Regions from separate parts of the Homo sapiens genome. Here all the other regions are reported to be linked to region 1. The links are microRNA targets in miRTarBase. Many come from high-throughput screens and were not tested one by one. Region 1 holds a microRNA gene; each other region holds the end of a gene's coding sequence. Distances are between the middles of the regions.

Region 1 (5,242 bases):
ACTGAACATTGTTGAAATGAAAACAAATGATTTAAAATATTATGCAAACTTAGTTGATAAAGCAGCAGCAGGGTTTGAGAAGTTTGACTCCAGTTTGAAAGAAGTTCTACTGTGGGTAAAATGCTATCAAACAATATCACATGCCATAAAGAAATCTTTCATGAAAGGATGCATCAGTTGATGTAGCAAACTTCATTGCTGTCTTATTTTAAGAAATTTCCATAGCCATCAGAACCTTCAGCAATCACCAGCCTGATCAGTCCGCAGCCATCAACATTGAGGCAAGACCCTCCACCAGCCAAAAGATTATGAGTCACAGAAGGCTTAGATGATCATCAGCATTTTTTTAGCAGCAAAGTATTTTTAAATTAAAGTATATATTTTTTAGACATAATGCTATTTCACACTTAATAGACTAAAGTATAGTGTAAATATAACCTTTTTATGCACTTTGGAAACCAAAAACCTCATGAGACTTGCTTTATTGCAATATTCACTTTGTTGCATTTGTCTGGAACCAACCCACTAATACCTCTGAGGTATGCCTGTATTGTGTCTAATTTATTTTCTTATTACTTATCAAATTTTCCACAACAAGCATGCTTCTCCTTGCGTAATCAGAAAAGAAGTTATTACATTTTTTAGAAATGAAATCATTTAAATAATGAAAGAAGAATCACCCAATTTTATTTCAGAAATAAAACAGGAAGGGAAATTAAAGAGTAAAGGGAAAAGAAAAAATATTTTCTTGGGGTAAGGGTTGTAAGAGAAAAGGAAAGGTTTGTGCATATGTGAAAAAAGATTACTCAAAGTAGTATCAACCCAATTGTAGGTGTTAAGAGTTCAAAGATAGGAAGCTTTCTAGGGCATCAAAAACCCTCTAAAGATTTCGGAACTGCGGGAGGTAACATCTATCAAGAGAATTCGCCAGGGTGGCCGCCAGGGGTCTCCTGTGGACCAGGAAGCCTTGACCTAGGATAAGTCCATGGTTTATGAAGAGAGAAGGAGCCTGTCTTCATGGAAAGAGGGGAATGAAAAAGAAAGTCTTGTCCATATTTACGCGGCATAATCTTACATCCTAGAATCAATGAATGCTAGACCAGAAAGGAACTTGATGGATTTTCCAGCTTGGACCTCATTTTAAGATTAGGAAATTTAAACCCAGAGAGGTAGTGAGGACTAACCTGAAGTTACACAGCTGGTGAGACACACAGTTGGATAATACTACAGATATCATGGATGACTTTTATACCATCTTACACTGTTAAAAACTCAGAGACAATCAGTACATAGAATTGCCGCACTGCAACCACAAAGTGATTCAGGTGTTGAAAGTACTGATCTTTGGTATTATTTTCACATCATAGTAATGGCATATAATGTTTGGAAACATATTATATGCCTATTATAACTACTTCATATTATAATGTAGAACTTAGCTCAATTTTAATGTTCAAGAACTGTCAAATAAATGTCCATTATTCATTGTTTGACAGTTATGAATACTTTCTTTTCCCTTTCCTGGCTTAGACATCTTCAAGAATTAATCATTACACTCAGCTTTGTTGGTAGTGAAAAGAAAACAAGTGAAAATCTCAAAATATACCACTTTAAATATGCCATCCCTGTTAAATGTCCACATTTACACACCTGCATTGTGTGCAACTCTTTGGATTCTGTCCTCTGCCTGCATCGGGCTTCCTATATCCTTATCGCTTTCAGCCTCTCCTTTCTCCCATCTCAAAGATTTATCCGTACCTCCCTACTGGTGTCCCCTGGATCCTCATTGCCCAGCTTCCTCCTCCCTTGTCAGATGTAGCCTCTTTACTGTCATTCATTTGTACATCCATCCAATCCACAAATATTTCTTGAACTCCAGCTATATGCAAGCTCTTGTGCAAGAAGCTGTGGGATTACACAAAGCTGTGGGGTATTGTCAGAGATGCTTCTTCCCCACCTCCAATTCAACTTTACACCTCACAGGGTAAGCTGTAACAATTACAGATTGCTTTGCGGCCAGGTGCAGTGGCTCAGGCCTGTTGTAATCATAGCATTTGGGAGATCAAGGTGGGAATATCCCTTGAGCTCAGAACTTGATGACCAACCTGGGCAACATAGACTGTCTTTACTAAAAATTAGCTAGGTGTGATGGCACACATCTGTAATCCCAGCTACCCAGGAAGGAGGCTGAGGTGGGAGGATCGCTTGAGCCTGGACATCCAAGCCTCAGTGAGCCATGATCACACCACTGTACTCCTGGACAACTGAGAAAGACTCTCTCTCTCTCTCTCTATCTATCTATCTATATATGCATATATATAATATTATATATATAATACTTTAGATAACTAAGTTACATACTATATATATAACTATGCAAAAGTTGGTCAGACTGGAGTAGTGATGAGAGTGATAATGGCCAACAGTGATTCAGAATCGTTTGACTCTATTGGACGAGGGGACTGGTTAATAGAACTAACTAACCAGAACTATTTTGTTCTGTTAACCCATCCCCTCATCTAATAGAGTATAAACCTCAATATAAGCTCAACTAGGCTGAGTAAGGCCAAACAAGCAGTCCCCTAGTGTCAGACCAGAGAGAAAAAGTGATGAGAATTTTAAAAATCTTTGCAATCAATGTCAGTGGTGGTTGAGAAGACCTTCTGAAGGGAGACTATGTGATGAAGGATTACGAAGTGAAAGAAATGGTCAGCATATTGTTTCCATTGAAAAGACAGAAAATCTTAAATCCAAGGTCATGTTCCTGGCCTTGCTACTGACCTGTAGGCAACAACTCACTGAGTTTCAGACAGCAAGTCTCTCTTCTAACAAACAGCTGACAACACCTCCTCTTAAGTATTACCCAACCTCTGGCCCCAAAGCACTCCTCAGTCCTCCAGTGCTACAATAAGTCATAATGATTACTCAAATGAAATAGAGATCTTTATGAATGAATAAGTTGCGGTGGTATGAGTTTTGAAACCACATCCCAAACCACATAGTAGAGAACAACAAAATCAGGTCAACCCAGGTGCACTAAAGAGAACTTGCAAAGCCCTTAAACCTAGGAAAAGGAGGGAAGGAGAGGAGGAGAACAGGGAATAAGGGAGGAAGGGAATGAGGAGAGAGAGGAATGAAAGAAGGAAGGAACAAAGAAAGGGAGGGAGGGAACCAAAAGAAAGAGAAAGAAAAAGAAGGAAGAAATGGGGAGAAATGGGGAGAGAGAGAAAGAAAGAGAAAGAAAAGGAGGAAGGAAGGATGGAAGGAAGGAAAAGAAGGGAAGGAGGGAGGGAGGAAGGGAGGGGGGAATAGAGAGAGAGGGAGAGAGAGGAAGGGAGTGAGGGAAAGATGGAGAGAGGGAGGAAGGGAGGGAGGAAAGTTGAAAGCTTGTAGTATTTGCTGATTTTCATGGTGTATTTCCATCATATCCAATTTGTTGAATATGGAGTTCAGAAATGCTACCTGCAATTGCCTCTTGAGAGCAGGTTTGAGCTGGTGCCCACACCACTGTCTATCACTTTAGCCCTGTGAGTAACTGTCACTCATCTGTAAAATGGTGATAGCAATTTTGGCGTTGCCATTTCAAAAGACAACTGAGGAATTATTTGCCAGGGAAAAATATTTTTGATAACTAAGTTACATACCTTATAACAAAATTATAGCTGAATTAAATATTAGAGACTGAAAAAAATTAAGATAAATTATTCATGAATGTTACATAGTTTTTCAGCAAAATAACTTCCTATGAGTGATAACAAGAAAGCTATAAAGGAAAAGATTGAGGTATTGTATGGAATGAAAAGAAATTCTACTTTATGGCAAAAATATTATAAGCAGAGTTAAGGTTCATAGATACTTCTGCAGAAATTAAGAAAATAACATTAATGATTTTATACTATAATATTCCTCATGATTTCTGCTTTCTTTTGTATGCATGGTTATTATGTAATTCATACAATACAGTTTGAGGTCAGCAGACATTATAATCATCAGATGTCAAACTGCACAATCTGAGTCTCAGAGCTGAGTTGCCCAGCTTCTAAGTGTTATTTTTAGGGAAAATAGGAAATAATTGCTATTTCTGGATTAATCACTATGTCTAGGCTTGCAGTGATAAAAACAGAGGATAAACTGAGCCAATTTCTTTTGTTACTCAATTTGAATATCACTGAGGAATCCTAATAACTTGGAAGAGGGTCCATGCTAAATAAGAATTACGCGGGTGATGAAATCTGTGTGCTGGCAAGGAGTCACTAATCATTACCAAGCATTTACTGTCATCACTTTGGTTCTTTCTTTAATTTTCTGATGTTGAATTATTGTCTTAAATAATCGAATTGAATCATCCAGTGAAGGTATGGAAAAGATTTATCATTATGACATAGTAGTGCTATGTTTCCAATGGGTGTGACATTTCAATATTTGCTTTATTCAGTAATTTTTTTTACTATGTACAAATGTACAGGGATATTTAATTAATCGATGTGATAGAATGACATATTTCCCACAAATTACCGTAAGCAAGCAAGCAAGGAAAACAAACTCACAAATTATTTCCTAAATTGGGATAATATAATTAAAATTAACTTTACAATATAATATATTTCCTCACTAGAACAAAAACATAACAAAATTTAAAAACTCTTCGAGCATAATAAAGGACTTAAAAATACACATTTAAAAAAAAATTTAAGTAACTATCAGAAGGAAAGAAAGAAAATAATAATCTGCCACCAGGAGACTGCAACATTTCAGTGACTTTTTCCACCTCTCCTTCCTCCAAAACTAAAGATTATCTTCTCCCTTCTCAGCAACAGGCGTTTGAGAAAGGAGAATTCTAAAAATGAGGCTAGGAAGCAAGTCTAGCTTAGAAAAGGAGAGGAGGTGGGGGAAATTTTGGTGAATGGAAGAGTTAAGAGGAGTGAGGCAATAAGGATGACTAGATATGGGGAGAAAGTAATAGAGTGTGGGGTTGGAGTACGTATCCTGGCAGGCAAAGGAACTACCACATGGATATATGATGGTTAAAGCCATGAGGCTTCGTGCTAGTGGATGATGAGCATTGATGAGTTATCCCAATTGGGGTTCCAAAATTAACAGTGCACACTCCTTCTCCTTTTCCTCTCTTCATTTTTTACATGAATCTGATTACTCCTTCCTCAGGGTTCTATGTGTGAGAGAGACAAGTCTTTTCCCACTCCTATCCACTGACTCATCTCCAACTGCAGACCAGTAACAATGA
Region 2 (5,242 bases), not on the chromosome of region 1:
CTCACTGCAATCTCCACCTCCCGGTTCAAGTGATTTCCGTCTAATTTTTGTAATTTTAGTAGATACCTGGTTTCACCGTTTTGGCCAGGCTGGTCTTGAACTCCTGACCTCAAGTGATCCACCCGCCTCAGCATCCCAAAGTGCTAGGATTACAAGCATGAGCCACCACGCCCAGCCTGGTTTCTGAATTTTATGTAACAGAATATGGCAACAATTATTAATTGTTTTCACTGGAGAAAACGTAGTGCTAATAAATCATATCATTGACATTTAAAAATATTTTGGCATTTTACCTTCCATAACATGTAATTATATTTTGGAGATCAACAACTAGTTACCAAATCTAAGCCACCCTATAGTGAGCAATTTGGTGCATCTATATCTACAAATATATTGTTTCATTCATCATTCTGCATTACATTTTTAAAAGGCCAAGTAATTGTTTTTACTCTCTTTTAGATCTTTTTAAATCTATTTTATATTATGTTAATAAATTTAATTTTTCCTTTCTAATTATTGTAGCACGTTTTCTCTATAAAATAGTAACTTATTTAGCATATATAAAATGTTAGCATATTATTGGAGCATATTTTCCTTACAAAACAGTAACTTAAAGGTTAAGGTACGTCTCCTTAAATACCTCAGAAAATGAAGCTTATTATTTTTTATCTTCCAGAAAATTGCCTTTAAAGGAAGAAGATGGGAAAGAAGCTCTAAATCCAGAAACTATAGAAATTAAAGTTTCTAACGACATCATTCAATCAAAAGAAGACGACAGCAAAGCATAACAACAATATTACAGGGGCTTGAACAACACTACGAAGAGTATTTGGATTGCGTGACCCTATGACCAAAACTATTCCATTGACCTTAATTTCTTGGGAAACTTCTAGCTTGGAATAGCTTGTACACATATACATATGATCAAATACTCCTGCCCATGATCCATTCCCTTTTGTTATTGTTGTTGTTGTTGCTGTTGTTGTTAATTTTGTTAAGAATTTCAATATCAAGACTGACTGGCACCAACACTTTGGTATTCAATTTGATTCTATGACTGAAGTACTGGAATTTATTATGTGGCTAAAGTGCTCTATTTATTAAGAACTATATTTAATACCACCAACAAATATAGGGGTTAAGGAAAAAAAACGTGAGCTACATGTGTAAGAAGGCCCTGCATGTGTATGAGTCCTATTCTGGGCAAATAGATTCTTAAAGTGGCTTTCAACTTCAAGATGAAGGAGCTTAATAATGGTTACTCATTTTATCAGGGGAATTTCAGGGAACGTAGGCGTCAAAGAGCCAGTTATCTTTAGCAGATATTAAAAATTGAAAACTTTGGAGAACTCATTTCAAGTTATGATTCAGTGCATTTTCAACATTGATTTTTGATAGACTGAAGTGCCAGATCAAAATTGTTACCCATTTGAAAGAATATTAGTTGTATATAAAATTAGATTAGAAAGACTTTCTAAATCTCTATCTCTTTATATATGTCCTATTCATTCACAATGGATTATACAAAAAAAAGTGTATTGCAAGTGAAATAATATTGATTTCTGCCCTCAGCTTCAAATAAAGTAAATTGAAATGGGAACAATATCAATATGGTGTCTTGATATATTTATAAATATGTGATTATCATTTATTTTTAAAATAATTTATCAAAAAACAAGTCTTTAGTGTTCAAATACTTCAAATCATATCCTCAGATATATTTTTAGCCCATGGTTTTATATAATCTTTAAGAACTAATTTTACCACTGTTATAGGTTCACCATTAAATATAATTGGCTAATAAAAATTTTAAGGTTGACTAAATTAAGAAGAAATTATTTAACATTTTAATGTGCCATAAAAGAGTAAATGATAAATAATTAAATGCCACTATGTGTTCTATTCCGGATGTTCTAGCTAGAAGTCATTTTAAGATTTTGATAAACAACTTTGGTTGAAGAAATTCCTTAAGTATTCAACACAAACTTTCTAATATCTTTTGTTAGGGTTATACCAGAATAAAATGCTTCTTTACTTCCAAGCTATGCAAGCTCCCAGAGGTAATAGAGTGACACATGATTTAACTTATATGTAAGGTTTAAAAAAGTATTTATCATTATAAACATACATACCATTTGGGAGCAGGTTTATTAACCTTGAGAGCCAAAGGTTTCCTTAGGCCCTGTAACATTCAGAACCTTTGGTGTTTCAGGTGGTATTATAGCTCAAATAGTGACAGGACAGGGAATGCGTTCCAAAGGAATATTGGAGCAATTTTAACATTGCAGAAACCTGCTCTGGGTGTGTCTCTCTGTAGAGATAACCTGATGATTATTAAATGTAAAATTAAGGCAACTCATGAATATTTTTATTTACAAAGTGCTTGAAACTCAGCCAAGGAGAGAAAACTAAGTACTTTTATATAATTCATCACTTTTCTGGCTACAGCAGGACAGAATATGACCATCTTCGTTTGAAGGCACCAAATCGTCGCAGTGTCTTTGCCATAAGTTGCAGGGTTAAATGCGGGAATCTCTCCTTGCGTTCCTGTCTGGCGTATTCTGAAGAAAAGAACAGAATTCTTGTGCCTACCTAAGAATTTGAGTAGTGTCTAAACAAACAAAGCAGTTAGGTCATTTTAACTGACTTGATTATCCAACTGGTCTTTGACAGATTTGACTGTTCATATTTAGTTTATGTTTGTCTGATCATCCAGTTTGCTTTATTTTGCTGTGTTTTATTTTGTTGTTTGTTTTGTTTTGTACCAGTGTACTAAAACTAGTCAAAATACTTGAATTAGTTTGTTTGTGCAAAGTGTACAAGCTTAGTAAAGTGTCCATGAAGCAATAGCCATGAATGCTAATTATTTCTAAATAGGGCCACATGGTTTTAAACTAATGATGGTGAAAGAAATACGATGACTGAGAAAGTCATTTCGCATGTTTACTATTGTTATATTCGTGCTTTACTTCAAGAGTGCAGAAATCATAATAAATAACAAACTATTTTTGTGTTTTCTCAATGTGACATTTCTGTTTCTCTCATTTATTCGGATTTTCCTTGTAAAGAAATTGACATATATTTCATATATATATACACATATATATATATACACATATATATACATATATATATATGATGTTAAATTTCCTGCCACTCATGTGGAGTAATGATCTGAAATTAACAGATAATCTGAAGCTAATTATATTCAGACTATTTCAAGTGCACTGTTTCAGTTGCCCGGGTGGTCCTTACCTCTTGTCCTTGAAATCCATGCCATGCTGAAGCAAGGCAATACTGTGATAAAGTATTTTTTTTAATATTTCAATGGAATGCTCCAAATGATTTATAAAAATTTCAAAATAAAAGATGGCTTGTAGTAAATTGTAAAATATGAGTAGAACTGAAATAACCTGTTTCATTCTTATTCTAGATTAAACAAACATATACATATAACCATATAAATGTTATTTTTATTGTCTGAGAGTACTCTTAAATATTAGTATAAAGTGTCAAAAGAATTGACTGAATATAAGTACTGTTAAAATAATTTGAACCCTATGATATTTTAAACCAAGAGGCAAAGATATCACCTAAAACTTGGTATTTCTTGATAGGTTAGGTGCAATTAGGCAGTGACAATCTGTATTCAACAACATATAAGAGGAAAGAGTAATATCAGAATTTTGACACAAATTAATGTGTCAACATATTTTACAATGATTGTCAAAGGAATTTAAGAATTGTATTTTTAAAGATTTATTTATTATTTTTGTGGGCTAAGACATTGCCATTCTATTGATACTAATGTCTAACATTAATGTTTCTTGTTTTCTTTTATTTTTAATATTAATAACTATAAAAGCATTTTTCAAAGGCTATTTGATCCAGCACACTTCATATGGATCTTAGTCTTTGAATTAAATATTTATATAAATAGATTTTATTAATCAAATTATTTATTTGTGTGCCAACAATTAATTGTAACTTTATGATCATATCTTTGTTTATGCTTCTTATTTTAAATAATTAAGATGTATCTGTGCCTTTTAATTAGCATGACAGTCTGCTTTATTAAAAGAAAAAAACTACAATTAACATCATTACTAGTATATTTTGCTTAGATTTGAGATACTCAAATGATGCTGTCTTATTTACAGTCAGTAATTAAGTTCAATTCAAACTATTTTACCTTGAATATAAAATCTAAATATAATAAACTATACTGTATAATTTACTTTAATTCATGTCAAAACAATTCTTTTTATACACACACATGAAATATTCTTAATCTGTTCTGTATTGTTTTTCTAAACAATAAATACATTCTAGATATTGTTGAAATTAAATTTTGCCAGTTGTAAGACAAAGACAACAGATAACTTTTGAAAATCAAGCAAATTACTATGGTGTTTCTTGGGTCTTCATTATTCCATTTATATATATTTTTTATTTCGAATAATAAATCAACCTTTATTTTTGGCAATAAGATTATCACTGACGAAAATATGTACAGTTCAAGAAGTAGAAATAATATTTTCCATTAGTTAATTTAGGAAATATTGGAATAGCATATTATAATTATTTATGAGGTTCCCAATGTTGTTTTTCACAGAAAATAAGGTAAACATTCAACTTAAATCCCCCATGAAGTTTTTTCATGCTCATACTCATAATCATTATCACATAATGTGCTTATTCAACAAACTTTGTATCTGGATATATTTTTAACAATAAGTTTGTTAGCATTATTTATTTATCTTTAGAGAGAAAATATTTGCATCTGTTTATTTACCCTTTGAAGCATTAATACTTAGTCACTCACATTGAAATTGCATATGGATGTATCAACATAGGCTAAAATTAAATTATGGATGTCGCAGAAATGAAATACTTCATCTTAGAAGGTAAAATTTTCAAGAAAGTATTTTATTCATGGACTTAATAATGTCTTAAGATGAAACAATTTTATGTCCAAATGAGAAATTTATAAAAAGACCCACATATAGTAGTTGCTGAACAAACATAATTTTCTTCCAGCTCCCATCCTTCCTTTTTGAAAAATTGAATTTACCCATGTAGATGCAGCTATTTACAATTATACAAGAATGCGAATAGATTAATTATATCTTCTCATATAAAGGCAAAGAATTTTATATTATATATAATGCTAAATATTTATTTGATAACACAATATTCTTAGAAAAATAGTTTATTACTTTAGGATTTTATCTATAACATA
Region 3 (5,242 bases), not on the chromosome of region 1:
CCTATTGGCCAGGCTGGTCTTGAACTCCTGACCTCATGATACACCCGCCTTGGCCTCCCAAAGTGCTGGGAATACAGGCGTGAGCCACTGCACCCAGCCTTGTGTGATCTTTTAAAGTACAGTTCCCATAGATTTACATTAAGAATAAAAAAGTCATGACATCTTGCTTTTATATGGCAGTTTACTCAAGCTTTTTAAAGAAAGAGCATTCATCTTGCTTTTACGTGGTTTTAGAATGTTGAAAACCTTTTGTTAAATCTGAGTAATTTACTGCATTTTCCATTAATTCAGCTTAGTTAGACTGCTGGATCCAGTGCTTGTTTGCTGTCACATATACCTAATATGCTTTTAACATATGCCAAATTCTGTTCTTAGTTCTTTACATTTATTAACTTATTTAATTTTCACAACAACCCTGTGAGGAATATCTATTATGATCTTCATTGTATATATGTAATGAAATGGAGATACAGAAAGAGTAAATAATTTGCCTAAGGCGACATAGCTTATAAGTAATAGAGCAAGAATTTAGACTATGTATTTGATACCTTGCTTCCTTGATAACAATAACTACAAGCTGTTTTATAATAGTTTGCAAATTTAACTTTTTTCTAATTGTGGTTTCATTTATATTTCTTTCAACTTAGGAGTGTCATCTAATGGACCAGGTGAAATATTAAACAAAGAGGAAGTAAAAGTTGAAGGGTTACACATTAATGGACCAACAGGTGGAAATAAGAAACCACTTCATGCAGATATGGATACTAATGGTTATGAAACAGATAACCTTACCACTGACCCAAAACTTGCCCATATGACTGCAAGAAATGAAAATGATTTTGATGAAAAAAGTGAGAGACCTGCCAAAAGGCGAAGGGTAAACAGCAATGGAAAAGAAAGTCCAGGTTCTTCTGAATTTTTCCAAGAAGCAGTCTCACATGGGAAATTTGAAGAACTTGAAAACACAGATGACTAAATTTTAGACCTATTTTACTTTCTTTGGAGTAAATTCTGGTGTGACTAAAATTTTCAGGGTTGATGGGTTACCTTAAAAAGTTGATTTCCTTGAAGCAGTTTGAAAATTTGAATTGAGTCTTAACTTTAGGAAATGAGGTTTCATAATTCTGCCTTTTGCAGATTTTTTTACTTTAAAGCTGTCAGACTCTTTTAAGGGTATTTTAAAAATTAGTAAATTTGAATGAACTAAAGATATATCTCTACCTTCTCATTTGAATATCTTTAGTTCATTCAGATTTACTAATTTTGGTAAATCTGAATGAACTAAAGATGTATCTGTACCTTCTCATTTGATGTATTAATCATAAAATTTCACTACAAGGTAATTTTTGCTTAGTTTGATGGATGAATGGGAAACTCAAGTCCAAATTTCTGCTTAATACCAATTTCTCTGAGTTTCTTGAAATGTCTTTAAAACAGACATTTTTCTCACCAAACAGTTTGAGTATCTTTATTAAGGAAACCCTTACGAATCCTGAAAATTATGCTAGCATGATTTTTTTATATATAGAAGTTTAAAAATAAACCAGGTCAGGTTTGTATATGTAAAATTGTTGACATCAATGATGTCTTTCCATATTCTTATCTGGGCTTAAGAAATACATTCTGTATTTTTCCAGATTCTTTGTAGCCTTTGAAAGATTTTTACAGTACATATGTCTTGACTGAGCTGTCCTTTCTTAATACAAAAGCGTGTATAATTTTCTTAACTTGTACAGTTGGTAAACTTTTATGAGAGGAATTGTTATTCTGAGTCTGTCAGCTTTCATTTTATTTTGCTAAGGTTTTTCTAATGAATTTTTAAGTGTTTGTGTAGTAATTAAGTCATATTTCTTATCCAGGTGGTTAAAGCATTCATAAAGGATTATAAAATTTTTTTTTTTTTTTTTTTTTTTAAATTTCTACTTAAGGGCAAGTAATTTGAGAATTCTGAAATTAAGCATGATGCTTAGATTGCAGTTTGTTTTGCATTTGCTATAATTTTCAAAATTATTTTTGAAGCAAGACAAAAGTTTAATGTCAGCTTAAGTGCTTAAATATATCATGCTGACCAGAATCCTGTTATTTTTATATGCATCATAAAATTTCCCATTTCTGCATTAAATAAACAGAGGAGGGGGGTCAAGTGATACTTAGATATTGGCACACACAAGGAACAACTGTTGGCAGGCAGTATCGATTTTATGAAGAGAAAGTGAAGTTTGAAAACTTTTCAAACTTTTCTAGTTACAATCCAATTTTTCAGATTTGATAATGCTTTTCCAAAGTGAAAATAAGATACACAATAATCATTGCTCTGTGTGATTACAGATAGGATTATCCATCTGCATAGCCTTGTAAAAGTGCCATTTTATTTTTAGTGCTAAATTCTTGTTAAATAATGTAGTTTTATATAGCTGATAGACCAACCTATATCCAAACTTTTATAAAATATTAATTATTCTTGTTTTTCTCACACAGGCATACTCCAAATGCTTCTTCCAGTTCATTTTTCAGCCATCAGTTCAAGAGCCAATGCCTTTTTAAAATAAAGCTTCTGTGGTCTTGTTTTTAATGGCTCAACTGTCTGATGTAATTGAGTGAAGGTTTGCACTGAGAAATTAGCATTCAGGCCTTACCCCCATGAAGTATTACTGTTAACATATGTTCGGACTGCTTCCCTTCACCAATGTGAACAACTTTTTTTCCCAAACAGTGTTAAAAGCCACTTTGCAACACTTGACTTCATCTTAATGTACATTCACTGTTGTTACATACATATCTAAGTAAATCAAAGTTTTGGGTGGAAGTGTTGAGAAGTATGAGTTTTTTGTTGTTTTTGTTTTACTTAAAACTTTTAATTTATCCAGAATGGCAGTAGCTTTAGCAAGCAGATGGTCACAATCTGTTTTCTAAATCATTTTTTATTAAATGAATCCAAAGTATCCTAGCTCTTTGTCAAAGATGGTCTGTAGAAATGTTTTTAAAGATTAGGGATGCTGTACTTTTTGAATTGTTGCAGTGTTGGAGATGCCATTTTCACCTTTTTAAAAAGATGCATTTTATTTGCAGGTTTGTGAAGTTCTTGCAAACTCTTACTACAGAAATGTTTTAAATACATTCTCAGGCATGTTTGCAAAAATATGGCACATGTATACATTTTAGGAAATGTTACTTTTGTTAATCTTTAAAAAATACACCTAATGAAAGACATTCCACTATTATGCGTAATGCTCAGCTTTTTGTAAAGAAATATTTAATTGTATTTTGTGTTTATACAGGTATTTCACACAATAATTTGTTCTTAATGCAGCCACTATAACTTGATAAGTCATTGCACTATTTAAAAAGTTTTAGTAATATCATGAATTTAATTTGCTTAAGATTTAGTACATTTCAGAACTTTTGAACTTTTGACAAATTGCATTGGAAAAAGAAGTCTGTTAATAGTGATTTAGTCTCCCCGCCTCATTCCCACCCCCAACAAAGCACTATCATTTTCATTTGGAATGGGTATTTTCTGTTTCATGATGTATTTTCAAATAGAGTTCAGGATCTGCAATTCAGTTCAACACAAGTTTGTTGAGCTTTAAAATGTATTTGAAGTAATATTTAAATAGGCATTTAAAATTTCAAATTAGATGTTAAATTTATGCATAGTAATTTTGCACTGTAAAATAATTCCCTTCTCCCATTCCTTGTCTGCCATTCTGAATATGCTTATTAAAATATTTTTTTAAACATATTTGCCTACATAATACTGTGTGAATATTTTCATTAGATTAATTCACTAAGATTTTATTAGAGATTGTTTGAATGATGCATGTTATTGACAAGGCAAATATATATATATACACAGTCTGTTTCTTCTATTCCTAGACATATTGCACTACTTTTTCAGTGGTTCTTGGTCCCCTTTACCACATCTTGGGTGATGTATTTTTGTCTTCTTCCCCTTTGCCACAAGAGATCCTTTCAGTCCCTAGACCTCCATTCACTCTGTTTCTCTTCTGCTGGATTATATAATTTAAAAATAATGTGTTCCCGTATTTTGTAGTGGAGTTCATATCACATTATGTTTTGCAAAATAAAACTTGTTTTGTCACAATATTTTCTTTGCTATCGATGGATAATTAGGAGTGGGCACTTGGAATAACTGAGGGCTGGTGAATATAATAGGCAATATTTACATGGGGTGTGTAACTAAATACCAAATCAGATAGTAAGGTTTTCCCAACTATAATCCATATTCATGAAAAATGCCAGTGTGGAAAACCATGTAACATACAGAAGAACAGGAGTTTCCAAATTTTAACCTTTTATTCTAAAAATGACTCTCTTCTCTCAAAATGACTTTTTCTGTATCACATAATTCTACTGATACAACTTTTTACCGTAAAAATTAACTCTCTTCTTTAATATCAAGTTCATCCTTTGCAGAATCTTAAAGGGTTTTCCACACATCCATCCACCCACTTACAGACTGATTTCATGTATCTGAATATCTGATTAACCTTTCTTTTCTAATACCAGTTTTCCATAAACTCTTGTCATGTACCCTTAGTATTGTGCTGATCTTTTGCCAACTATACGGACGTGGAGTTTTTCCTTTTCAGAATATGATTATTTTCAATTTGTCTTTAGTTAGTATAAAGAATTATAGAATGTATAATGTAATTAAAATGTCATTTTGCTTGCTCTTGAGTAAGAAGTAATTTGAACACACTTTTAAAGGCTACTTATTCTGTGAAGAATATTGAAGAATTGCCATGTAAACGAGATGAGATGGATTCTAATTGTCCAAATTGATGGTGACAGTTTCACATTTAAATGTCAATGATGACAAGCTTTCATTATGTTTCCATATACTCTAATATCCAGCAAATATTTCGGCCTATACTTGTACCAGGTACTATGCTTGCTTGGCTTGTGGCTTCAGAGATGCGGCATGCCCTGTTCTTCAAGAAGGCAGCAAAGTGTTAATGGTAGAAAAGTAAAGTGTATTCTGAGTACAGAGACAGCAAAAAGAGGAATAGGCACGATCTCAAGAAAATGAGTTTACCTTCCTCTTTGCCATGTAAGTCTAGCTAAATATTTTTCTTTTGTCAAACTTCGTATTTGCTGGAAATTAACCAACATGAAATGCATGATTTTCCCTAAGAAATTTTGTCTTTTAAAAAAAAAATTTCCTGCAGAGCTGGTTCTACCATAACAGCAGCTGTGGATTATTTAGGACTCATCCCTT
Region 4 (5,242 bases), not on the chromosome of region 1:
CCCTGCAGGCCCCAGTCCGCGCCCGGGTCGCTGGTGCGCGCTCCCCTCGGCGCCCGTCCCCGATGACGCTGAGGCCCTGGGGCGCTGTGGCCGCGTCCCCTCCCCCTCCCCTCTCTCACGCCGGACCCGGCCGGTACCCGGCCTCCCCTCCCCCTCCCTTCGCGCCCACTTGTTGCCGTCCGGCCCGAGCCGTGCTCGTTCCGCCGGCTGAGTGTAAAAGGGTTTGACTTGCGGCTGACCCCGGGTCAGCACTTTCTCTCCACTAATCCTGCTCTCCTTCTACACAAAACCCTCGGCCCCGTCCCTCGCAGCACTCATCTTAATCTCCACCCGCCCCCCGCCGGCGGCTGACACCGGCGCGGACCTGAGGGAGATGGGCTCCCAGGGCGCCCGGGGACCCCTGCGCCCTCCCGCCCCGAGGCTGCGGGGACGGGGCCGAGGCAATGAGGGGACTAGTAGGGGGAGCGCGGGCCGCCCCGAGACTCGTGCCCCATCCCGCCCCGACCTCCGACTGGGCGCCCAAGGGCCGGAGAGGGACGGAGAGGGGAGCCGCGCGCGGGCCTCGGCGGGGGAGCTTCAAAGACAAAGAGGAGGCCGGGCCGCGCTGAGAGAGGCCGGCGGCGGAGACGCAGCTCGGTGCGGGAGTCAGAGGGCGGTGGAGACGGCACAGGGACTGGAGAGGCGGTGGGAGTGGATGGCGGGGGCGGGGAGGGAACGCCGTGTGCCGGGACCCCAAGGACAGCGGCGCGGTGTGCGGGGCTCAGCCGCGGGCAGAGCCGGAGAAAGGGCGACTTGGAGAGGCGCAGGCAGGGGGGTGCGCCCGGGAGGCCCGAGGCCCCGAGGAGGCCCGGCCACCCCCGCCCGGAGGGGACACGTCCGGACCAGCCGCAGACGCCGCTCGGCTCCCGGGGGCGGGAGGAGCGTGGTCCCGGCGGGCGCGCAGCTGGAGAGGAAGGGCCGGGGAGGGAGGAGGGAGAGAGGGAGGGAAGAACGGGGGAGGCGGGGAGGAAGAGGGAGGAGGAGAGCTCGCCCTCAGGCAAGGGGAGGTGATCCCGAGGCCTGGCTCGGGCGGGAGCAGAGGACTGGGTGAGGGGTCCCTGCGTCCCCACCTCCCGGCCTGGGCCTCCACGCGAGCCCCCCCGCCGGCCCTCGCTCCGTCCTGACGCCGCCCCACCCCGCCGGATACTGGGGGCCCGCACCCCGCTCACTTTTCCCCATCTGGCCTGGCCTTTCAGTCTCGCCAGATAGTCACGCTGGAAAGAGAGCCGCGCCAAGGCCAAGTCTGCTTTTCACTTGAAGTTTCCAAGGACTCAGACCGGGGGTTAAATTCTGCCGCCGACGCCTCTGGAGCCGCTGCCCCCGGGCCCAGGCCGAGCGTGGGTGGGGAGGGGGCGGGAGTCGGCCGGAGCCCGACGGGGTCGAGGGGGCGCTGGAGTCCGGGCTGGCCTGAAGCGAGCCTTCGGGGGGGGGCGGGCACACGTCCGGGGATGGGTTTCTTGAATTAACTGGAATTTTCCGGAGACAGAAATCTGCGGCGCCCAGTCTTTGCCGGGGGAATGAAACGCGGGAGCATGAGTGCCGTTCTCCCACACGCGTGATTTTAATAGACCTATCAGTCACGCTCCCGACGCGCATCTGGAGATCACGCTGTGCCCGAGTCTTCTTTAAAACTAATCCATCTAGTACGTTACGGGTGGGTTTCTCCGGGGAAGGGGACGTCAAAATCTCAACAACAAAAGGGGCGGGTGAGTTGAAAAACAAAACAAGGCAAAAACAGAACAAAACAAAGCAAAAAAACCCTCAAGTAAACCCTCCTACCCTCAGTTTGGAGGGCAGGGCCCGAGCGCAATGGCAGATTTACGAAGTCACACTGTCGCCCCCGCAGAAACTGATGCAAACTTTGCACTAGGCCTCAAAGACTCCTATCCGCCTTCCCTACACGGGTTGCAAACATAATTGGACTAAGCGACAGAAGCACCACCCTGTGATTTGGGAAGTGAATGAAGTCGTCATATAATATAATAACTATCATCATATAGTATTTCACTCCGTGAATACGATGAGTGTTACCTTGGCCAAGCACCGAATTCACAGTCGGCTCAGGGCCTACTGTAATCTTTTCTCCACTAATTTGAATTGGAGCGACACTGCTGGGGGCGGGGAAGGGGGGATAGAATCTCAATCCTGAGATGAATCTCAGCTAATTTCCTTGCCCCCACCCTGTGATATTTTTAAATGGAGTCATTAAAAATTTATATTTGCTTTTTTCTGTGTTGTTCTAATCAACAAAACAAGGAAATAAGGTGGTTGGAGCACCTGGCATTGGCTATTTCAGCTGACTGTGCACGAAGCACCTGCAATAAGATGCCAAACTGTAAAAGCTGCTTGCCTGGCGTCCCGGGCGCACTAACTCAGCTTTTCATAGTCTGTGCCTCTAAAGTGGGGCCCACATCCTAATCTTGAGCCAAGACCTAGATGCCAACAATTGGACACAGAAACTCCAGGGTACACACAGGGGAGCACAGGGGCCAGACTGAGAGTGGACGTCAGTCAAAGAACCTCAGAGAGAGTCCTTTAAGTTTGTATATTTCAGAGAAAACCCTCAAGGTCCCATTGGACCCTCAAGGTCCCGGTGAGTTAACAGAACAAGCATTATAAAATTTCCCAAATCATCTCCCGGAGAGGACTGGGGAGGCCCTTATCCCGGACTAAGTCGTAGTGGTGCTCAGCCATCCATGGGCGCACAGACTCTTCCAGAAACAACTGCTTCAGAAAGGATCAAATAGCTAAAAGAAATAAAAATAAAGAAAAAGAAAAGAGGGGGGGGGTTTATTATCTTGTTAGAAAGCAGTGGACATCATTCTTGAACTTTTTTGTAATCACTTTAACGAATGAGTGGTTTAAGCAAAATTATCAAAATGACTTCCCAAATTACACGTCAATTGTCAGATCAGCATTATACTTAAAGCTATTCTCGAATGCAGGCTGAATTCGGTTCTCATTAAACTTATAGCATAGGCTCACTTTTGGACGGACAGTCCATACTCCAGGACAAGGAAGGGTGTTGAGAAAGCGAGGGGAAACCTAAGGCTGCTGAAATAAACGTATTTCCATCTGGGCTTCAAGTGTTTTTTTTTTCCAAAAATATAATTTCATCTTAACGTTGTGATTAATTTTTAAATGTATTTGCTACAGTATAATTTTTAAATGCAATATTTAATGCTGTCAGATTACTTGAAGACAAAGTTTTACAGAAATTTTTAAATTTCAAAAAAAAAACTGCAATGTACCAATAAACACCTAGAAAATAATATAATTAAAAAATTTAAAGCATCAAACAACCTCAAGATCTCGTCAGGAATAATGAACAAGGCATTTTGCGTTCACATCGGTTAGCAACTTGCATCCCAGTTCACGCGGGGGAGGGTGATGGTCGATATTTCTGTGTGTGTGAGAATCCAGCACAATTATTTTGCCCGTTTTCCCAAGAGAAAGAAGCCAGGGGGAGGGGCAGAGGATGGACGGAGGGGGCTCGGCTGCAGTACGTTTTGGTTCAGCGATTGTGTTTCCTTGAAACACATTTAGATAAATTCTGCTCGAAATCTTAATTGCTGGGGAATTGGGAAACCCGTGACCTGCCCTGGTCTTTGTCCTTCATCCATGGCCTGGTCCAGGGTCCCACCACTGGGGTCTTCCCTTCCTCCTCCCTCCTCTGGACCAAACTGTGGCGCAGACCCCCAGCCAGGTGGAAGGCGCCCCGCTTGCAGCAAGGTAACGCGCAGCAGCCCCAGCCGTCCGCAGTGAAACAGCCGGAGCAGAAGATACTTTTATTTCTCGGCCCGTATTAACACTCAGCTCTACAAAATAACCTATAGGTTTTAACTTCCTTCTCTTTCATTGAAAAAGGTTCCTTGAAAAATCCTGTCCTCCCATTCCCCGGGGTTCCCTTACTTTTAGTTCATACAGATAATTTCCCTGTCAGATTTCCTCATTGCATTTTGAACTCATAAAACATGCACATAAAAATAGCATGTTACAAATTTATGGAGAAAATGGGCTCTGTCTCTTAAATTTGTTGACTCGAAACATTTTGGGTGGGGGGTCTTTTTTCGTTTTTAGAAGAAAGGCTTTTTAGAAAACTATGTACATAATCTGACTTCTCCTCCCCGCATTGCAACGCCGAAAATAAAATTTTTCACAATGCATTTACAAGAAATAATACAAAACCCAAAAAAAAAAATGGAAATGCTCAGATACATAAAGTTTTACAAAACCCAGAATATAACTCCGCCGTCTGAAGGAGGGGGTGGTGGTGGTAATCTCTTTGTATAAATTAACAAACCAACCCAAAAGAGCGGTAACAACTACAAAAAACTTGTAAGTGCTTGGACCTGCCTTACTACATTTATAACAAATGCGACGAGCTCCGCGTCACTTGGGCTCCGGCGGTCGGCGCCGTCCGGAAGCAACGCGGAGGAAAGTGAGCGCGCCGGCCGGTATACAAAAGTGGGCTTCGCCTCTCGCCTCGTTTTGACTTTTTTGTCCCCTCGAGCAAAGAAAACGCTTTCCGCTTCCTCCGTAGGTGATAAATACTGTACAAAAAGTCTCAAGAAAACACCGAAGTTCAGTCTAAAACCCAAGTCTGGTGTCAGCGCCCGGCGGTCGCCAGGGTCTCCGGGGAAGGTGAGTGGGGGACACGCGTCACCCGGCGTTCGTCTCCAGTATTTTCCTTTTGACAAGAATGTGGGAACGTCTGTACAAAAGCCACGCCGCGCCGGGGCGGGGCGGGAGCCGGGCGCGGGCCGCGAGCTCGTGGGTCGCCGCCGCAGAGTCCCCGGCGTCCCGAAGGCGCTAGATGTGCGTCAGGGGCACCGTGCCGTTCACGCCCGCGCCCGCGCCCTGGTAGTGCTGCGGCAGCGAGTGCAGCCGGCTCTGCGCCGCGGCCGCTGCTGCCGCCGCCGGGTCGCCCCCCTCGCCGGCGGGCAAGTACATGCTGATCATCTCGCGCAGGTCCCCGGGGCACGGCGCCCGCGAGTGCGCTGGGGCGGGCGGGCTGCCGCTGGGCTCCGACTTCACCAGAGAGCCCAGCGCGCCCAGGGCGCCCGACGACGCGGCCGCCGCCGCCGCCGCCGCCGCCACGGCCGAGTTCTGGTGCGCGCCGCCCGCAGCGGCGGCGGCGGCGGCCGCGGCGCCGTAGGGGAGGCCGCCGTAGCCCGAGGGCGACGCGCTCATGTAGCCCTGC
Region 5 (5,242 bases), 64 Mb from region 1:
GATACAAAAATTAGCCGGGCACGGTGGCGGGCGCCTGTAGTCCCCACTACTCCGGAGGCTGAGGCAGGAGAATCGCTTGAACCCAGGAGGCAGAAGTTGCAGTCAGCCGAATCACACCACTGCACTCCAGCCTGGGCCACAGAGCAAGACTCTGTCTCAAAACAAAAACAAAAACAAAAAAACATGATGGGGAGGGGGTGCAGATACACAAGAGGGGCGGGCGCTGTGCACCTCTGGGCCAGGGAGAGGGATTCATTTCTACAGTTACCTGTTCCAAGCACACAATTTGGACATTAAGATTTTTCATAATAAAAGGTAAAAGCGTACAGAGACCTAATACACGTGACGACTAAATGCAATGTGTAGTCTTGACTGAAGTCTAGTTTAAAAACATCACAGCCCGGGGAGACTGATTTGAGTAACAATAAAACTCCAGTCTCCTGCAAAAAAAAAAAAAAAAAAAACAAACAAAAAAATTACGGGCCAGGCACAGTGGCTCACGCCTGTAATCTCAATACTTTGGGAGGCTGAGGCAGGCAGATTGCTTGAGCCCAGGAGTTTGAGACCAGCCTGGATGATATGGTGAAATCCTGTCTCTATAAAAAATTTAAAAATTAGCCAGGCATGGTGGTACAGCTGTAGCCCCAGCATGTTGGGAGGCTGAGGTGGGAGGATCGCTTGAGCCCAGGAGATCAAGGTACAGTGTGCTATGATTGAACCACTGCACTCCAGCCTGGGTGCCAAAGTGAGACTCTGCCTCAAAAAAGAAAAGAATAAAAGTAAATAGTTTCTGAAAATGGACTGAGAAGTAGCTGGCATGGGGGAATTACTAATTTTCTGAGGTGTGATAACGGTGCCACGGCTCTCCCGCCTAGGTGACGGAGTGAGACTCCATTGCAAAAAAACAAACAAACAAAAACAAAACAAAATGTGTTAAACACAGGTGTGGTTATTCACGTCATGGTCCCACTTTTCCAGGCCTATGAACAAAAGAGCAGAGAGCTCTCCCTGGTGACGGCGCCACGTCCTGGTTCTGTCTCCAGCTGTGCAACCCACATGAGGGAAGGCACGTGGGACCCCCAGGTTAGGGTTAGGGTGTGAACGTTTCAGGATGTTTAAATGTATTTACTTACAGAAAGTGGGTTCTGCAGCCCTTTATGCCCCTGACAAAAGTGAATGGCGTACAGGGTGGCCCTGGGATTGGCAGTGGGGTGGCCAGGAAGCCCCACTGTGGTCCTGACACCCCCAGGACTCCCCACCCCAGTCCCACAACTGCAGTCCCTGCCACACCGTCCACAGCCCCCCTGCCTCCCACCCACCAGCACCTCACTGCCTTCCCCACCCCCCGCAGGGCCCCCCAGTGCTTGGGACGTCACAAAGGTGACGACGACAGGTGCCGCGCTCCCCCTTGCCATCATCTCAGCAGCTGCCGAGCACACCCAGGGGCCGGGCTCCCTCTCCACCCCCTCAGCAGACGCTGGCATAAGCAGCCGCGGGCTCTATCTGCAGCATCCACCCCCTCAGCAGACGCTGGCATAAGCAGCCGCGGGCTCTATCTGCAGCACAGAGCTCCTGGACCCGCCCTAGGGGGATGGGGCGCTGGGCGCAGGGGTCGGGTAGACCCCAATACCCCTCCTCACCTGAGAAGCAGATGCCTACCTGCTGGCCATGCACCTGCCGGGCCCCATGGACACCAGCTCCCTTCTCCTCCTGGGGTCGGGGTCTCTCCCTCTCAGCGAAGGGAGGACCCACCTGTGACATGAGCTGACTCGGTAGCCAGGCCGTGTGAAGACGGGGCTCTGGCCCCTTTGCCAAGAGCCTGTCTTGTGTGTGGCCTGGCTTGTCTGGAAGGCGCTCGCGGCTCTGTCCACGCTCCCTAGCTGTGCCCCTGCTGAGGCAGCCCGGCCACGCTCCTGGGACGGCCTGAGGGTCAAGTGGGCAGGGTTGAGGGCACAACAGTCACCTCTAAACCTGTCGAACCACCTGCCTCCCTCGCCACAATCTCAGCAGCAGATTCTGGGATCTGAGCAGTTGAGAAGGACTAATCTTGTTTTAAAAACACCCCCGACCCCGGCCCGCAAGGCGACTTACTGCACCGCCTTCCCCTGTCACCAGGAAGGCCGGACGCCAGGATGTCAGCACTGAGCGCGTGTCTGGCCCAGTCTTGGTCGCCAGCAGAGCCAGGGTGAGTCGACGAGGTTTTCCTCTCGGGACCCTCAATGCCTCCTGTGAAGGCTGCGGGAGTTTCCACCTCATCTGTGCGTTGGGGTGTTACTTTTTTGTTGTTGTTGTTGTTTTGAGATAGAGTCTCGCTCTCTCTAGAGTGCCGTGACGCAATCTGGACTCATTGAAAGCTCTGCCTCCCGGGTTCACGCCATTCTCCTGCCTCAGCCTCCCAAGGAGCTGGGACTACAGGCACCCGCCACCACGCCCGGCTAATTTTTTGTATTTTTTAGTAGAGACGGGGTTTCACCGTGTTAGCCAGGATGGTCTGGATCTCCTGACCTCGTGATCCACCCGCCTCGGCCTCCCAAAGTGCTGGGATTACAGGCGTGAGCCACCGTGCCCGGCCTTTTTTTTTTGAGACGGAGTCTCGTTCTGTCTCCCGGCTAGAGTGCAGTGGTGCGATCTTGGCTCACTGCAAGCTCCGCCTCCCTCGTTCAAGAAATTCTCGTGCCTCAGCCTCCCGAATAGCTGGGATTGTAGGCGTGTGCCACCACACCCGGCTAATTTTTTGTATTTTTAGTAGAGATGGGGTTTCACCATGTTGGCCAGGCTAGTCTTGAACTCCTGATCTCAGGTGATCTGCCCACCTTGGCCTCCCACAGTGCTGGGATTACAGGCGTGAGCCACTTTGCCCAGCCGGGGGTGTTAGCTTTAAAGTCATGTTTTCGCCTTACAGTGACGCATTTCGGAAGCAAGGCTTCTGCCTGCAAAACACCACTTTCATCCTTTGTAATCGTAATGTTGAAGAATTGCTTTTATTTCTAGTCAGTCTTAACGGTGCAACTTACTGGCGCTTACAAAGGACAGCAGGCGAGCTGTATTCAATATGCTTATGTTTTATTTATGTAGGTGGCATTTAAAATACATGATGTGTTTAGGGTTACATTGTCCACAGAAAGCATCAAATACCACTCCTCTCCCCGCCAAAACCAAATAAACAAAGCCAACTCTTTGGCAACAGTTGTGTTAAATAAAATCCCAGGTCACACTTGTTTCTGGCTCCCAAGCCTGGGTCACTGCTACATGGATTGCGCCAAAAAATTCCCAGCTTCAACACTGCTAGATTAAAATTGCTGGCATTTTTAAATCACAGCAAAGCTTTTCACAATGCCCTCAAGTCCAAGAGGACAAAGGAGAAAGCAACATGAACGGCAGATCCTCATGTGAAAGGGAAGGAAAGTCACTGGGAGGGAGCATGCAGGGAAGAAGTCAAGGCAGCCCTGGAATTCTACTCCGTGCTCAATAAAAACAAAACGTGAAGAAGCAATACATCATGCAAACGAAATAATGACCGGAAGTGGGCGCATCTAGTTAGAATGAAGTGACTTTCGTAAGGAGTCAATGTTCGCGAACTGAAACATGAGTTCAACCTCCTTGTGCCGTCTCTGGGTGTTTTGCGCGTGTGTAAATACCGGCCCGTTTTCCCCAGCATGGCCCTAACCCATGGACACTAGGGAGAGTGCCACTGAGCAAAAATTTTTTGCTAAAAATAATTAGCAAAAATCCAAGAAAAAAATATGGAATCTAGCAAAACCTACACCATATTTGAAGTTGAATTTGCACTACCTGCAAAGGATGAAAATTAAAAGAGTAAACAGAAGGAATGATTTTACATCTGATGTGATTCACGACAGCCTTCTATTCGTGTGGCCGGATTGCTCTGAGGAAAAGGTGCCCTGACGGGCAGGATTCAATGTGTCACTTGCAATATTCTCTAAGTTACACTCTACTGAATTACCTTCTAATTCCAAACACTACGCCGCCACAGAAAGCCTCATTTCATGAATGTTACTCAGTTAGCCATCTGCGCCCTCCTGTACTTCTAAAGCCAGAAATATTCCAGCAGCATGCGGAGTGGTTGAGTAGCCGAAAAGAATGAAGAGGATCCGGAAGCACTAGAGGAAAATGCAGCAGATTGAGAGCTGGAGAGAAGCAGAGAGTCGCGGCCAAGTCCCAAACGTCTGTCCCCGCCACCCGTGCCGTCAGCCCCGTCTCCTGACCCTGCTCTGACTGATCCGTGATCGCATAATCCTGCCGAGCGAGTGTGGCCTCGAGACAGTCCTGACCGACGCTGCTACCTAGCGCGTGTGCACGACCGCATGCCGAGCACGGTGGAGCGCCAGCGTCTGGGGGTGCACCGCGTGCCTCAAGTCCGGTCTAGTGATTGCCTTTGGTCGACTTCTTCTTCTTCGACTCCTCTCTCTGCTTCTGCTTCTTCCTCTTGCCACCTTCTTTCAATCCTAAGGAAACACGGCTTGTAAAACACTGTACGGAACAGCACTGCTTCCCCAGCAAGAGCCAAACATGTTTTCTAAATATCTCCCCATGTTAAGAACAAAAAGCAACAAAATGAAGTCATCTATCTTGGCCACAGCTAAACCTCAAAACGGGCGCTTTCCAAGGTGCACGTTGAGAACTGCTCACACTACCCAGAGAGCTTCACCACCCTGCAGAGAAGTGAGGACTCCCACCTACCCGAGTTCCGCCCAGCGGCAGAGCTAAAAGCCCACCCTGGGACTACCCCAGTTCTGCCCAGCGGCAGAGCTAGAAGCCCACCCTGGGCACGGCTGCACCTCAGTCCTGGAACCCCACCCTGGGACCTACCCCAGTTCCGCCCAGCGGCAGAGCTAGAAGCCCACCCTGGACACGGCTGCACCTCAGTCCCGGAACCCCACCCTGGGCTCTCCTTCAGAACGCACACTGGGCCTGCGCAAAGGTGTGCCCACCTGTGGGGAGGGTGTCCACAGGTGTCTCCTCCGCTTCCCCCGCTGGCCACAGTGCAGCCTTTCTGCAGGCAAAGCCTTGGTGTGGACTGGCCTCATGTTTGCCAGCTCTGTGCCATCCAGCGTGAGAAAGTCCCATTTCTTATTGAGGAAAGTCTTTCATTTCCCTGTTGCTAAAGTCAATGGCTGACACTGACTGATCCAGCTGAAGTGCATGGAGAAAGACGCCCACCCTCTGAACGTCTGATCCAACGTGCCAGAAATAAACACCTCTGGATTCATTTCTGCAGAAA
Region 6 (5,242 bases), not on the chromosome of region 1:
TAATGATCTGTTCACGCACTTGAAGATGTACTCTGTGTACCAGTACGATGTTGCCACTAGAAGTCTGAACTGAGCAAAACATTCACAGTCTGGGTTTGGAAATAGCAGTGGCAAAACAGAAGCCACAGGATGGCTTCCATGTGGGGCCGTTCCCAATACAGAGAAAGCCAGTGCCACGAACTCAGCAGGACTTGGGGTGGCCCTGTTCACGTGCCCCATCTTGCTGTTGCAGGTGCGTCCTGGGAAACACTACCATCCTGGCCGAGTTCGCTGGTGAAGAAGAAGTGAATCGCTTCTTAGCCCAAGGCCAGGCGCTGCCACCCACTTCCAGCTGGCAGTCCAGCAGCGCGTCCAGCCAGCCGCGGCTCAGCGCAGCGGGCAGCTCCCATGGCCTGGTACGCAGCGACGCTGGCCACTGGAACGCCCCGTGCCTGGGTGGCAAGGGGAGCAGTGAGCTGCTGTGGGGCGGGGTGCCCCAGTACTCCAGCAGCCTGTGGGGCCCGCCCAGCGCCGACGACAGCAGGGTGATAGGCAGCCCCACGCCGCTAACCACCCTGCTGCCTGGGGACCTGCTCAGCGGGGAGTCCCTGTAGGCTCTGCCATCATCAGCACCAGGAGAGCCGACCCCTCCCGGGACCCCTCCCGGCTGGGCGGCCCCACAGACCCGCTGGAACCCAGCAGCGGCCGCCCTTTTGAGTACCTCTGTCCAGGACTGAAGACGAACCTTGGCCGCAGTCCTTGCGAACTGTTCGCAAAACAGTGCGGGCTGCGGTGGGTCAGCGTCACATGCTAATGACAGGATGTTCCTCGTAGCTTTTTATTTTGTGCGTCTTATGTTTGTATAGTGTGTTGTCATTTTGATTTTTTTTTTTTTTTTAAGTATAAAAGCTGCTTAGAATAGTTCTATCATGAAGGGCACTTTTCAGATTGTGGGCTGGAAAGGGTTATTTTATCTGTGGGGGAGGGAGGGAGACGTGAAGCCTATTTAAAATGAGCCTGTGACGATTATGCACATGACCAGAGGCGGCCGGTAATCAGGGCAGAGTCTGGTGTGGACCGCCGGGCGCAGAGCGGCTCCGCGGCGGGAGCTGAGCGGAAGGCGCGGGCTGCGATCTGCTCTCTGTTCCCCTGGATCCGCCTATGCACATTACCCTTGTTTCATTACTTTTTCATGTCATTTTTTTATCCCAAAAAATATTTTTTAAAAGTTAAAAAAAGACATATCAAACATGCAAATACTTGAATCCAGCAGGCCAATAGTGAAATGTGAACACTTTCTAATTCTACACTTCCAGGTTGACATCAGTACACAGAAACAGGCTCTAGGAAAAATTTCTAAGTTCATAGCCTACGTGTGTGTATGTGTGCGTGTTGAAACAGAAGTGTGTGTGTGTGTGCATGTGTGGCGCGTGCTCCTGCACGGCGTGCAGTTTTCTGTGTTTGTGTGTTTGAAAGCGTGTGAGGATTTAACTGTGGGTTTTCCCTTGTATTCAGTATACGCTTTTTTTTTGGCGCATTGGTCAAACGGTTGTTATTATTAGCTTCTAACTTTGCACTGAGTGTCCTCGCCCTTCCTTTAGCTAATCCTATACATTACAGAGAATTCCTAGGACAGGGCTGGCGACAATTCATGTGTAAATGTTTACTCAAGGACTCTGTGACTGCGTTTAAAAAGTACAGTGTATATCTCTGGAGAAATAACATGTATACCTACCTTTAGCAGCTTTTTATTGTGGACTAATGCAAGAAAATTATTACCAGAGTATTGCACCATTTTTCCATTTGGAATATAAAGTTAAAGAGAAAAAAAAAAAAAACTGTTGTTGAACTGTGGCCATAGATACTTGTAAAGAATGGATGGTTCCGTGGAAGGAACAGAAACAAGCACTTGGGCGTGGGTTGTGACTGCTTTTGGGGGAGCCTGGGGTTTGGGCTCCCACCTGTTTACAGACCTTTTTTTCTCCTTCAGACTTTAAAATTTTAAAAATTTAAAAAGGAATTAAAAAAAAAAAAAGACTTCCGTCGTAAAGAAACCTATTTTCAGAATGCAGATGCGTTCCTTCAGAGCTCTGGGACGGGACAGTGTTGTTCCCTCGGCCATCGTCGTGGACTCTGTCGATTGCTTTCGCCCCTTCGTCAAGGTGACAGGCGTTGTGGCCACTGTCTTGCACATGCCGGACGCGCTCTCAGGAAAGCCAGGGCTCCCGAGGGCAGCTCCACACCATTTCATGTATTTTTAAACCCAACTCCTAGCACTGAAGATGTTATTTAAAAAAAAAAAAAACAAAACAAAACAAAAAAATGAAAAAAAAGAAAAAGAGGAAAAAAAAACACAAAGAAGAAAAATACCTAATCTCTAATGTGTAGCAGTTACATATTTACCAAATAATGGACTCAAAAGAAATAGATGTTTGAAGAGTGCTTTATATATTAAAAATTGCTTTATGTTTTAAAAATGATCAATGTTTTGATTGTTTTGCAAGGAAGAAAGACAATGGAATAACATACCTTCAAGTATGTTTTAAAAAATATATATATGAACATTGTGCTCCCTGCCTGCTTGATCAGGAAACTTGTGCATTACATTTTTTTAATTAGCTTTTTAATGGTTTTATCAAAACAAAAAAAATACAAAAAAAAAAAAAAAAGTCCTGCAAGACTGCAGATCCACAAAAGCTGGTTTTATAGAGGATCATGAACTATGCACAAACTGGGTTCAAGACTTTTTTTCTCAAGTTTAGTAGGATATTTAGAAAAACCAACCTTCCTCAGAGTGACTGCATCTCATTGCCATTACATGCGTTCTATATATTCGATGGACATACACCTGCGTATGTATATCCAATATGTGTGCGTGTGAGCATGCGTGTGCGTATGTGCGTCCGACATACCACTTCCCGTGCTGCCGGCGAGCATTGAGTTGTAGAAAAACTGTTGTTTTAAAATTGGGGATGGAAGTCAAGAATATGTTTGTTTGTTTTTGGGTTTTGTTGGGTTTGAGGGGTTTTTTGTTTGTTTGTTTTTTGTTTTTTTTACCTTTTATTTTGAACTTAATATGTCTGTAACTCTGAGATTAAACAACAAGTTCGTGGCTCTTAATGTTTTCCTCATAGAATGTGACTGTTGAAGAACATGCATCGAAAGTTGCTTTCGAAAGTACAACGCTTTATTGAATCTTAATAAATTGCAATTTTTTTCTTGGCTGTTCAAAGTAATGTGTTTTTCATTTTTCAAAAGACACTATGGATGTCTACTTTGCACGCTGCGATTGGGAGAGCTGTCCCGCTGCATGCGTTCCCTCTGTAATTTCCTCAGAGCTCACATACGTACCTCTCTCACGAGTGAACTCAGATTTTCCATTGTTTTGCTTTATTCTATCATTTGCTTTGTGGTTTTGCTGTAAATATTGAAATCTTAATCATCATCGAGAGGCACAGCCAAGCTTTCCAGCTCTCCACCCCCGTGGCCCATCCAAGTCTGTTCATCTGGTAACTTCTGTTGTCTGGGACGGCAGCAAGAAGATGCCGGGGCTTGCCTGGAGTCCTGGCAGAGGAGTGCCACTCACTTTTGCCTAGGGTCCAGTTGGGGCTTAAAAAATATTTGGAGAGAAGAGTAATGAGGATTTTTTGTGTTTCCTAGACATTTTATGCATCTATTTTTGTAAAATCACCTTCGCTAACTTTCACCAAGCACTTTGAGCACAGTGGAACTTCAGAAGCACAACCAGCCTAACCCCAGAATCTCAGGTGGCACAGCTAGAAATTGAGTCCCTTCCTAGGACACTGGCCGTGGCCTTCAGGGTGACCAGTCAGTGCCACCGGGTTGGCATTGGTGTTACAGACAGGCCTCTGAAGACAAACCGAGCACCCCAGCGGCCCCTCAAACTAAGCAAGGATCTTTTTTCTGTCTGCGCTCCCTGGGGCAAGGTCAAAGGTGGACCCGCCCACTGTGGGTCAATTCCTTCGAAAAGATGGGACCCGCACCCCCGCCACAGGCTGGCCCCCCCCCACCCATGGGGAAGGTGGTGTGCTGCTGGCTCTGACCATACTCTTTTGGAAATTGAGAAGGAAAGCATTGAGTGGGACCTAATCCGGAGAAGAAATTAAAGACCAGAAAAAGAAGGAAGCTGGGAATGAAACTCAAAATGCACTTGAACCTGGAAGCGGCAACCCTCAGCTCTGCGCGGCCGAGCCTCAGCAAGAGTTCGTTTTGTGCCTGAGTTACTACTACAGGGGCAAACTGTACCCGTGCCTGTGCGCTGGGAGAACAAGGTCAGCGCCCAAGGGTGTGCAAAGGATGTGGCAGGCTTCATGGAGGAGGTGGCATTTGCCCTGGGCCTGGGAGACCAGGTTGGATTTTGACAGACTGGGAACTCGGGGGACAGGAGGGCAGCACAGTGTAAGCTAAAGCCCTGTGTAGGGACCCCACGCAAAGACCTCGTGGGCCTGGGTGTCCAGGGCACCATTTCCACCCATGGGTGAAAAAGAGGCTTGAGGAAGACAACAGGTTCTTCACCTGCATCTGTGGATATATATTTTTTTAAGTTTATTAAATTTTTTTTTAAATGGCAGTTTCAGACCTGCCCTTTGTGGTTTGTGTTTTTGTTTGTTAATACAGGGTCTCTGTCTCCCACGCTGGAGTGCAGTGATGTAATCTCGGCTCACTGCAACCTTGACCTCAAGGTTAAGCTCCAGCGATCTTCCGACCTCAGCCTCCCAAGTAGCTGGGACCACAGGCATGCATGCGCCACCCCACCCAGCTCATTTCATTTTTTATTTTTGTAGAGATAGGGTCTCACCATGTTGCCCAGGCTGATCTCGAACTGCTGGGAATACAGGCATGAGCCAGGTGCCCAGCCTTTGTTGTTGTTGTTGTTGCTGCTATTTTGGCAACATCACGGCAGAACGGTAAAGGCAGAAAGCACAGTGCCCAGCAGCTAGCAGTGTGGCGTGCCAAGAAGGCTGTTCCAATGGGGGAGAAGCCAGCAGACACAGAGGCATCATGGCGAGCCCCGACTGAGTGTTCAGTGAAGAGGGAAAACAGAGACAGTGGGGCATCCCGAGAAGATCCTCTGCAGGAGTGCGGTGTCTACGGATGGACCAAGAAAACCTACGCAGGATCCACGTGGAAACAAAGCTGCTTAGCTCTGCATATCAGTGCTTCTCGGCGGAGCTGTGGCTGATGGGCTCCTGGTGCAGGACTGGCCCCTGAACAGCACAAGTGTAGTATGCCTGGGCCCCAG

What was found. Region 1 holds the annotated microRNA hsa-miR-4652-3p (GUUCUGUUAACCCAUCCCCUCA, at 2,497-2,518, shown strand). A microRNA usually pairs through its seed, bases 2 to 8, with sites in the 3' UTR of a target mRNA and lowers its output. Matches are read on the target gene's strand: a 7mer-m8 pairs with bases 2 to 8, a 7mer-A1 pairs with bases 2 to 7 and ends in A, and an 8mer does both.
Region 2: the mRNA of NCAM2 is a reported target of hsa-miR-4652-3p. Seed matches in the 3' UTR shown: 7mer-m8 at 2,573-2,579 and 7mer-A1 at 4,612-4,618.
Region 3: the mRNA of MIER1 is a reported target of hsa-miR-4652-3p. Seed matches in the 3' UTR shown: 7mer-A1 at 3,098-3,104.
Region 4: the mRNA of SOX1 is a reported target of hsa-miR-4652-3p. Seed matches in the 3' UTR shown: 7mer-A1 at 3,440-3,446 and 7mer-A1 at 2,266-2,272.
Region 5: miRTarBase lists DNAJB6 as a target of hsa-miR-4652-3p. The part of its 3' UTR that is shown has no 7-base or 8-base seed match.
Region 6: miRTarBase lists TNRC6C as a target of hsa-miR-4652-3p. Seed matches in the 3' UTR shown: 7mer-A1 at 1,310-1,316, 7mer-m8 at 1,376-1,382 and 8mer at 1,874-1,881.

The regions. Positions count from the first base shown.
Region 1 is chr7:93,714,481-93,719,722 of GRCh38, forward strand. It overlaps MIR4652 (microRNA 4652), which reads left to right and starts at 2,448; the gene lies at 2,448-2,525.
Region 2 is chr21:21,537,170-21,542,411 of GRCh38, forward strand. NCAM2 (neural cell adhesion molecule 2) reads left to right here. Exons shown (of 18, transcript NM_004540.5): 18 at 677-5,242. The coding sequence ends at 788. Among named protein-coding and RNA genes, the nearest start is that of LINC00317, 200 kb to the right of the region's middle.
Region 3 is chr1:66,983,925-66,989,166 of GRCh38, forward strand. MIER1 (MIER1 transcriptional regulator) reads left to right here. Exons shown (of 14, transcript NM_001077700.3): 14 at 648-4,695. The coding sequence ends at 976. It also overlaps a transcript of SLC35D1 not described here. Among named protein-coding and RNA genes, the nearest start is that of MIER1, 62 kb to the left of the region's middle. RefSeq lists silencers at 612-661, 649-849.
Region 4 is chr13:112,068,444-112,073,685 of GRCh38, reverse strand. SOX1 (SRY-box transcription factor 1) reads right to left here. Exons shown (of 1, transcript NM_005986.3): 1 at 1,980-5,242. The coding sequence ends at 4,852. The region is part of intron 1 of SOX1-OT (SOX1 overlapping transcript); the gene reads right to left. Among named protein-coding and RNA genes, the nearest start is that of SOX1, 3.9 kb to the right of the region's middle. RefSeq lists an enhancer at 1-142.
Region 5 is chr7:157,415,240-157,420,481 of GRCh38, reverse strand. DNAJB6 (DnaJ heat shock protein family (Hsp40) member B6) reads right to left here. Exons shown (of 10, transcript NM_058246.4): 10 at 3,043-4,466. The coding sequence ends at 4,384. Among named protein-coding and RNA genes, the nearest start is that of DNAJB6, 81 kb to the right of the region's middle.
Region 6 is chr17:78,104,253-78,109,494 of GRCh38, forward strand. TNRC6C (trinucleotide repeat containing adaptor 6C) reads left to right here. Exons shown (of 23, transcript NM_001142640.2): 23 at 233-4,570. The coding sequence ends at 593. It overlaps TMC6 (transmembrane channel like 6), which reads right to left. Exons shown (of 20, transcript NM_001127198.5): 20 at 3,145-5,242. Among named protein-coding and RNA genes, the nearest start is that of TMC6, 22 kb to the right of the region's middle.